Linked DNA regions of Homo sapiens. The protein of the gene in region 1 purifies or fractionates together with the protein of each later gene. This does not show direct contact. Each region holds a gene or a part of one and is shown in the gene's direction. Other genes may lie near its edges. The genes, in order: CIMAP3 and DUSP28.

What was found.
Region 2: the proteins of CIMAP3 (region 1) and DUSP28 purify together in Homo sapiens (affinity purification with mass spectrometry; 2 studies listed by BioGRID and IntAct, with this or other methods). This does not show direct contact.

Annotation. Positions count from the first base shown.
Region 1 is NC_000001.11:111,345,346-111,349,421, forward strand, and holds the start of CIMAP3 (ciliary microtubule-associated protein 3), read left to right. Parts: upstream 1-1,276; 5' UTR 1,277-1,307; coding exon 1,308-1,326; intron 1,327-1,564; coding exon 1,565-1,704; intron 1,705-2,328; coding exon 2,329-2,427; intron 2,428-3,170; coding exon 3,171-3,301; intron 3,302-4,076. UniProt on the Homo sapiens protein: During primary cilia disassembly, involved in cilia disassembly. Required specifically to control cilia retraction as well as the liberation and duplication of the basal body/centrosome.
Region 2 is NC_000002.12:240,558,590-240,563,413, forward strand, and holds the start of DUSP28 (dual specificity phosphatase 28), read left to right. Parts: upstream 1-1,767; 5' UTR 1,768-2,095; coding exon 2,096-2,488; intron 2,489-2,740; coding exon 2,741-2,878; 3' UTR 2,879-4,824. Other genes in the region: ANKMY1 (ankyrin repeat and MYND domain-containing protein 1), read right to left, coding at 2,142-2,361. UniProt on the Homo sapiens protein: Has phosphatase activity with the synthetic substrate 6,8-difluoro-4-methylumbelliferyl phosphate (in vitro).

The DNA of each region.
Region 1 (4,076 bases):
TATTTCCTATAAATTTCTTCACAATGTTAATGTATATAACTACTACTAATTATTTTTGTAGAGTCCAACAGGACATATTTGAATGTCATGTGGGACATGGGACAACTCACTGTATGCCTGGGCAATGCAGTGTAGGATGTCTAGCCTCCCTAGCCTGTTGACCAGGAACAACACCCCAACAATTTTTAACAAGCAAAAATTCTTCCACAAATTTCCAAAACACCCTCTGGGAGTCACTGTCACCTTTTTTGGAAAGTCTACCTTAGATCTATAAAAATCATCCCTGAAGGCTGTCCTAACGCGGAGTATGTGTGGATTCCAGGGTCATCACCTGTAAAGGGTCAAAGTATGGACCAGTCACACTGGGTGTTCTGTTAACCTCTAACACCTGGACAACTCCTAAAGCCATCCTAAAAATCGAGTGAAAACAAGCTAGTGTTAATATCCATGACAAAGGCAAAAAAGACAAAACACACTCTGATCTTTTTTTCTTCGGTTATTATTATCTTCAGTGATAATAACCTGTCGTATGTCACCCACCAAGTACCACGTTCTGAACTGTTTTAATCCCGTCATCTTGATCCTCTCAACAATCCTATATAGAGGAATTTTTATTCCCAATTTAGAGATGAGAAAACTGGGGCTTAGAAATTTGACTGCCCCAACTTCTAAAAAAAAAACTATTAGAGTCTTCTCTGATTCCGTGGCATTCTACCCGGTCCACGCAAGGCCTCCAGTTCTTTTAAAACCTCGCGCCCCCTCCCCACGGCCCCCCGGGATAGAATGGGCAACCTGATTGGAGGGGCTTGAGGAAAAGGAAAAATGGTCTAAGGGCCTAATATGGAACTAGCTGTCAGCTCAACTCCGCCCCCTACTCCTCTGCTGGGGCGTTGCCCAGGGAGTCCACCCCGGTACGCTGCAGCGGCTGTCTTTCTACTTTCACCTTACTTGCTGGTGGCCCAGACTTCGGGACATTCTGAACCTCACTGTCCTTCCCTCTACAACAGCGCATTCCTCTTGGCCCAGCTTCCAAAGCTATTTGCCGCCCCGTCAACCCTGCAGCCCCTACAGCCGCGAATCCAGGAAACCCTCTACCCGCAGCCCAGCTACTGAGTTTACAATCCCCTGGGCTTTGGGCTCCAAGGTGCGGGTTCCTGCCCCAGTAGTGGCTCGGTGGACGCCCCAACTTGCCGCGCAGGCGCGCTCGGGCCCTCTCCCCCTCCCCGCGCTCCGCAGCTGGGAATCACGGGACTAGCCTTCGTTTCCTTGGCAACGCAGTACACAAGTGCTAGCCCTAGCAGCTCGCGATGTGCTTCAGCAGAGCAGGTGAGGAGGGCTGCCGAGAAGCCTAGAGTAGAGGGCAGGTAGGGGGAAGGGTGGGGAAGCTGGGAAAGACGAAGTGGGAGGAAGTGCAGTTCGCCCCCCTCCAGGAGTTTGGCGTGGTTTTGTAAGCGCACGGTTGGGCCCTGTCCTCTGCTCAGTCTCCCCGACCTTCCCCTCCCGGAACGCGCTCACGTAGACCCAGGTGCCGTCCCTCACGTGGAGCCTCTCCTCTTTATTTTAGACGCTGCGGATAACTACCCTTTTGGAACATGTCAACAGAGGAAACTTTTTCCTCACTTCCATCCCCCGAATTTGATTGGGAACAAGTTTGTCCCTCTTAGGGGATCACCCCACAGAGGGCCTGGGTGTTATTTTTCAGATGTGAGTATTCACCTCCCCTTAGATGCTCCTCAGTTCCCCGGCTATTGAGGGATAGCCAAGTTTCCAAGTTTCGTAAAAGAAAAAATTCTGTGGGACTTGAGATCTCCAGAGTCCCAGCATAAGAAAGCGCTCTGTTCTTCTGCAAGCAGCTGTTTCAGCCAATGCCAGAGATTAAAGGATTATTGCTCCCCGCCTTGCACCTCCATTAAACGCAAGCCCTAGCTTCATAAAATCCCTACTCCTTCCTCACTTCCAAAGGCCTCTGAGCCAGTGCCAGTTACCCTCCCATTCCTCCAAACCTCAGGCTGACAGTTGCATTAGAGTAAGTTCAGCTCTGTGGGGCTCCGAAGACTGATGCATTTGAATATATGGCAATGTCCTATAGTCTACGTATCCAGCCACACCCCTCTACAAAGTTACCTGTATTACTTGTGTAATTCTATGGTCTTGACCTCAAAGGAGTCAAGACAATAAAGAATAATCCCTTGCAGAGAAGGTTCAGATGGGAACACACTAAGCTCACTCCATTTCGATGGCCCTGATGTTCTCTGACTATGCGTTGTTTTTTCTTTCTTTTTTTTTTTTTTTGGTGTTTTTGTTTGTTTTTTAATATACCACCCAAAGGGATATGGCTTGGCATACGACTTATCTAAGATCCCAACCAGTATAAAAGGATATACTTTGGGAGCCAGAACAGCTGTGAGGTTTAAGCCAATACAGAAGGTAATGTGCTGGGATTTTAGTGTTATCCACGTTGTTGCATGCATTTGCACAGGAGTGCAAAGGGCAGAGAGCAAGAGGGGGGTGATCTAAAAGAATATGCCCTGAAATTAAAGAAAAGTAGGCATTTAAGCAAAAGCTATTAAGAAGCCTATCTGAAAAGCTTGGGCATTAACATTGCAAATATGCGTGTGAGTGTACCGGGGAGAGTGGAAAACAATTTACTGAAGAAATGGTCCCAACACAGGGCTTTAGTGTTGAGATGCCTGAGGTTAAACATTCGAAGCTTGTGTTTATATACATTATATTGTCTTGTCAGTTAAATAACAAATTCCAACTTTTCCACCCTTTTGTGTGATTGGGTTGCAAGTCTAAAGTTCAGTAGGGGATCCTAATCTCTTATTGGACGACATTTTCCTGACACTTGAGCTTAGGGAGCAGAGATACTATCTCTAAAAATCTCTCAGTGAGGTGTTAAGCATAGTGGCCGTGATAAGTTGCCTTGGTTCTCTACCCATCCTAGATTTATTTCTACAACCTATATATTACGTATCACTAGGTAGCTGAACCACACCCGTATCTCGGTTTTCTACCTACCGAAGACTTATTTCTGTAGCTTGAGGTGGCTGAACCATAGCTGATTTATGAACAGAAAGAGGATGATTCTGTTTTTTCTACCTGGAAGGCTTTATGTGTATATATATACATATCACTCTGTAACATAATGATCTTTTTCTTGGAAACAGGAAATGACACCTCATGCAGGCAGGTACCAGAAAGTAAGTCCTCAGCAGGAAAAACACAAACAAAATTTTGCTCCATTTAATGTCTTGGTGCCTCGATTTAAGAACTACCCAAAGGACACTTACTATCCCAGGTATGTCTCCTCCCTTTTGGTGCACTTCAACAAAAAAAGCAATAGGAGGAAAAGAAGTACGTAATAAAAGAAGCACATAAAGAAGGGATGACATCCAAACCATCGCAGTTAAATAAGGAACCATTCAGAGATTTAATCAATTGTCTCACAGATTTCTGGCATTGTAGAATGTAGAATCATAGTTACTCATTCAATGAATTTTTATTAACATGCCAGGTAGTTTTGTAGGTTCGATAGATTTTTGCACTAAATCCATCACACAAGGCTCCTGATTTCTTGGGGCTTACATTCTAGAGTCCAGACAGAGCACAGGCAAATACACAAGAAAATATCAATAGTGATAGAGTGACCATATAATTTGTTAGTCAAACGATGACACTTCTGAGAGTAAAAGGGGGCCTATTAATAATTCTACCAAGACAGTACCCATAAGGTAGGGACTGTCATGGACAAACCAGGAAGTAGGTTGTCCAGGCTACAAAGAAGGTAAAACAGGATGACAATGTGATAGGGAGTGATGGCCTGGAGTCTACTTTAGAAAGGGTTGAAGAAATGACAGTTAACCTGAGATCTAAATGACAAGACTGAGCCAGCCCTGTGAAGATCTGGGGACCGAGCATTCCCAGCAGAAGGAACAGCAAGTGCAAAGGCTATAAATTGGGAAGGAATTTGACGTGAACAAAAAGGCATGCTGCCATGGCTAGAGTGTAGTGAGCAAGTAGGAAATGAGACAGAAATGGAGGGCATGCTGGAGCACATAGGCCTTGCAGGCCAA
Region 2 (4,824 bases), on another chromosome or scaffold:
GGCACCATGGTGGGAAACAGCTGGGCCTTCCTGCAAAGAGGGGAGAGGCTCTTGGAGGTGCAGGGCTTGCGTTTTCTCAACCCAGACTGCCTCTGAGAACAGGGCAGGGGGTGTGAAGAGCTGATGCCCTGGCCCTCCCCACTGGCTAGCTTTCCGGGGACTAAGGACTAAGGCTGGGCCAGGATTCTGGGGTTCTAGGGGCTCTGCCTCCACACGCCAGTGCCTGTCTGTTGAGTTCACTTCTCTCTAAAATCTCATTTTACACCACGACCCAGTACAAACCACTCAGAAAAATGTTTCATTAAAAGTTCGGCATACTACATGCATGCACTCTAATATTTTCATGTAGTCTATTATTTCTCTAAAAACTAAAATGCTGATCATGACCCACAGAATTGATTTCACAACCCACATTAGTTGTGAATTACAACTTGCTAAGGAGTCAGAACCAACATGTAGAAACCCTCTGTTCTTAGCAAGCACATTCTGGTTACACTGTGGGGGACTAGCACCAAGTCCAGGAGACAGAGGCTGGCCCAGACTAAGTGTGGCAATGAGATGCAGAGACACTTAGGATGAATTGGTTCCCAATCCATTACCTCAATGGAGTGGGAGCATGATGGTTCAAGTAGCAGGCTTTGGAGCAGAAAACCCACCTCAACCATCCTCCAACCGTAAAGGGTGATGATGATTCATGAAACAGTCCAGGAGGAGGAGGGACTTCAGGTTTTGTTTGATTCATTTCAGTGGCCCAACAGTGGCATCAAGGACCTTGGCTCTCCCATCTCCTCTGCTTTCACCCAAGGCTGGCTTCCCCTTATGGCCATGAGAGAACAGAGGAGCCTTCCAAAGTGCTCTCTCCTTCATGGGTTATTAGACACCAAGCTCATTCCCAGAGCAGTCACGGGAGTGTGGCCTTCACTTTTGGCCAGAGACAGAGCCAACTCCTAGAAAGCGGAGGGAGACAGTGTCCCAACCTAATCAATGGCTCCCATGAACGCCAGGGAAAAAAAGGGAATTCCACTCCTCCATCCTAGGAAAGTTGGAGTCCTTCCTTAGGGTGGAGGAAGTGGGAAACAGATGCTGATAAGACCTCCACGGAGGTGATGTCTGGAGCTGCAACCAGGGAAGACCTGGCTGCAGACATATTTGAGTCTTTAGCTCAAGAGTGAACCCCAGGCTGCAATAAAGATCTGACAGTTACCAATGCTAGAAGGCTGATGGACAAAGCAATGACGATAACCCAGAGAGAGACTGTATGCAACTGAAACTTCAATTGCTAAATGTCTGTAGGGCTGTTGAGACAGTTGCTTTTCAGTGTATCCATTGCCTGAAAATTACCAGATGTCAGAAAAATTGAAGGAGTCTTAAATGGCAATTTCATGGACATTAAGTGATATTAAATTTTTTAAAGTTACAATGCTGACCCCAATAAATTACTTAGAAACAGCAAAAGGAATAGTGTGGTCTATGAAGAAGTGATGAAAATAGAAATTAGTTTTATTTTATGAGCCATGTGTTATAATACATAGAAAAAAATGCACCAATTACAAAGCGGGCCACAAAAAGGAATAAACGTAAAGCCGACAACGCAGTCACTAGGGAAAGGGTGAAGACACGGGAACCACGCAGCCCGCCGTCCACGTGCACCGGGTAGCCACGGGGCCCTAGCCGAACGACGCGGACGCGAAGTGGGCGGGCCCGGCCAAGCCACGCCTCCGCGCCAGACGCCGCAGTAGAGCGGGCAGGGCGCTGCGCCCAAGAGCCACAGACGCAAGCCCAGTGCCACAGGCCGCGGGGGCGGGGAGGACGGCGCCCGGGGACAGAGAACATGGGACGCAGAGCGGTCCAAGGCCCCGGCGCCCTGGTGAGGCCCAAACCTCCCGCCATGCCCCGGCCCCAACGAGACCCAAGCCCCCTGTCCCGGCCCAGCGCCCGCGGGGGACCCAAGCCCCAGCCTGGTCCACCTCGGAGGCCTCTAGGACCCGGGGGCGCCCGGCGGCCCGCCCGGCTCCCACAAATAGACTCCTGGGCGGGCGCCTGAGCCCCCAAAATAGATCCTCAGGGCCCAAAAGCAGACTCTTCGGCGGGCGCCATGGGACCGGCAGAAGCTGGGCGCCGCGGGGCCGCCTCGCCCGTACCTCCACCGTTGGTGCGCGTCGCGCCCTCACTCTTCCTCGGGAGCGCGCGAGCCGCGGGCGCGGAGGAGCAGCTGGCGCGCGCGGGAGTCACGCTGTGCGTCAACGTCTCCCGCCAGCAGCCCGGCCCGCGCGCGCCCGGCGTGGCAGAGCTGCGCGTGCCCGTGTTCGACGACCCGGCTGAGGACCTGCTGGCGCACCTGGAGCCCACGTGCGCCGCCATGGAGGCCGCGGTGCGCGCCGGCGGCGCCTGCCTAGTCTACTGCAAGAACGGCCGCAGCCGCTCGGCCGCCGTCTGCACCGCGTACCTCATGCGGCACCGCGGCCTCAGCCTGGCGAAGGCCTTCCAGGTGGGCGGGCCTTTAGGGGGGCGGTGTTTCGAGAGGGGCGTGTCTTCCGGGGACGAGTTTTCCGGGCGGGGCCGGCTTCGGGATTGGGACAGGCACTTCCGGGAGGGGCGGGTCTCTCTCGTGAGGGCGGGCTTAGGGAAGCAGAGAGGCACTTCCGGGTTGGGCGGGGCCCACTCTTACAGCTGGGCCCGCCTTGGCCCCTGCTGGCCATTAGCGCGACTTGGGGTTATTCAGTACACTTCTTGTTTGCAGATGGTGAAGAGCGCTCGCCCGGTAGCAGAACCGAACCCGGGCTTCTGGTCTCAGCTCCAGAAGTATGAGGAGGCCCTCCAGGCCCAGTCCTGCCTGCAGGGAGAGCCCCCAGCCTTAGGGTTGGGCCCTGAGGCTTGAAGCTTGAAGGCCTGCTGCCTGGAGGAAGGATGTCCCTGCACTGATACAGAAGGCTGGTCTTTACCCTTCTTCCTCACTGTCATATCGAGTTTTCCTTTGTGTGTGTGTGTGTGAAACATAGTGCTTTTAATTTTATATTTCCGGCTGAGGTGATGCACAAATTATCTTACAGACACAAAAAGAAATACATTTGGTAAAACATCGAAGACAAATTAAGAAAAAGCAAATAGGGATCCTCCATTATTTACACTCCAGAATCTTGAGTGTTTGGGGGTGCCGGCGCATTCTACCAGTCTCAGGGAAGGACATGAGTACAGACTACAGTAATCAGAATCTGAGTCATAGGTGAAATCAGGAAAAGCAACTCTTCTTGTGTTTATTTTTAGTAGTGTCATAAGAACGGACTAGTTCTTCCTGCGTGACCACGGATGCTTCTGTTTGAGAAAATGCATACCCACGTGGGACATTTAGATCAAGAAAGCTGTTGATGAAGACATTGTTGAAGGGCAACTTGGGTGATTGGGGAATTATTCTCTTCATCAGCCCCTCTGCAATACAGCTGGAGCTGTCCCATAGGAGTTCGGACAATTACGGACATCCTTTTTCTTTCTCTCTTTCTTTTTTTTTGTTTGTTTGTTTGAGACAGAGTCTCTGTTGCCCAGGCTGGAGTGCAGTGGCGCAATCCCGGCTCACTGCAACCTCCGCCTCCCTGGTTCAAGTGATTCTCCTGCCTCAGCCTCCTGAGTAGCTGGGACTACAGGTGTGTGACACCAGACCCGGCTAATTTTTTGTATTTTTAGTAGAGATGGGGGGTTTCACCATGTTAGCCAGGATGGTCTCAAACTCCTGACCTCGTGATCCACCCACCTCAGCCTCCCAAAGTGCTGGGATTACAGGCGTGAGCCACCGTGCCCAGCCTCCTTTTTCTATTACTAGAGAACTCCAGGACATTAAGAATTTCAAAAGTGATTTTTTCACCCATGGCTTCTACGGTGACAGAGTATGGTGTTCCTGTAGGGAAACAAAGCCAAGTTTTTTTGCTCCTTTCACTAAAGCTGCTTCATCCGGGGAGGAAGCCTGGTAGATTATAATATTTCCAGGGATAACAGTGTGGCACACAGATAACAGGGTAAGAAATTGGTCTATATAGTTTTCTGTGGGATGGCCATTCTCAATGTTCTCCAATAAACTGGGGTAATTAAAATATCAGGGCTCGGATGGAAGGTGTTGCACCATAAATGACACCTGCAGTGGTACTTGTTAAATGTCTTAACATTGCAAGTGAGGGTTCCCATTTTATCAGAAAATAGAAATTTTACCTGCCCAAGTTCTTCACTGAGATTGAATGTGCTGGCCATGGTGTGGACACTATTTACTTTATAATGCACATCTTGATCCCAGTTTATAAACTGGGCCTGAATATATTTCACAATTTCCATAGTGACCAGCAGACTAATGGGGATGAGGTACTGTTATAAGATGATGAACACCAGTATGTCAAACACAATGCTGTGAGCTGGAATCCTCTTTCAGGTACCAAATGTCACCATACTTTTTATTCCATAGCACGGCTCCCACGCAGCTCACTACAGACATGACCAGAGCAGCAGGAACCAAAGGGAGACCCGCCCATTGTCACTTTCTTAATCTCTGATCTCTTGAGGTGATTTGACAGAATTCTGCAGGAATTTGGTTTCAAAGCCAGTGTAAACAACTATGCCAGTGATCCACTGAGCATTTCTTTTTTTTTTTTCTTGAGACGGAGTCTCACTCTGGTGCCCAGGCTGGAGTGGGCGCCATCTTGGCTCACTGCAAGCTCCGCCTCCCGGCTTCATGCCATTCTCGTCCTTCAGCCTCCTGAGTGGCTGGGATTACAGGCGCCCGCCACCACGCCTAGCTAATTTCTTTGTATTTTTGGTAGAGACGGGGTTTCACTGTGTTAGCCA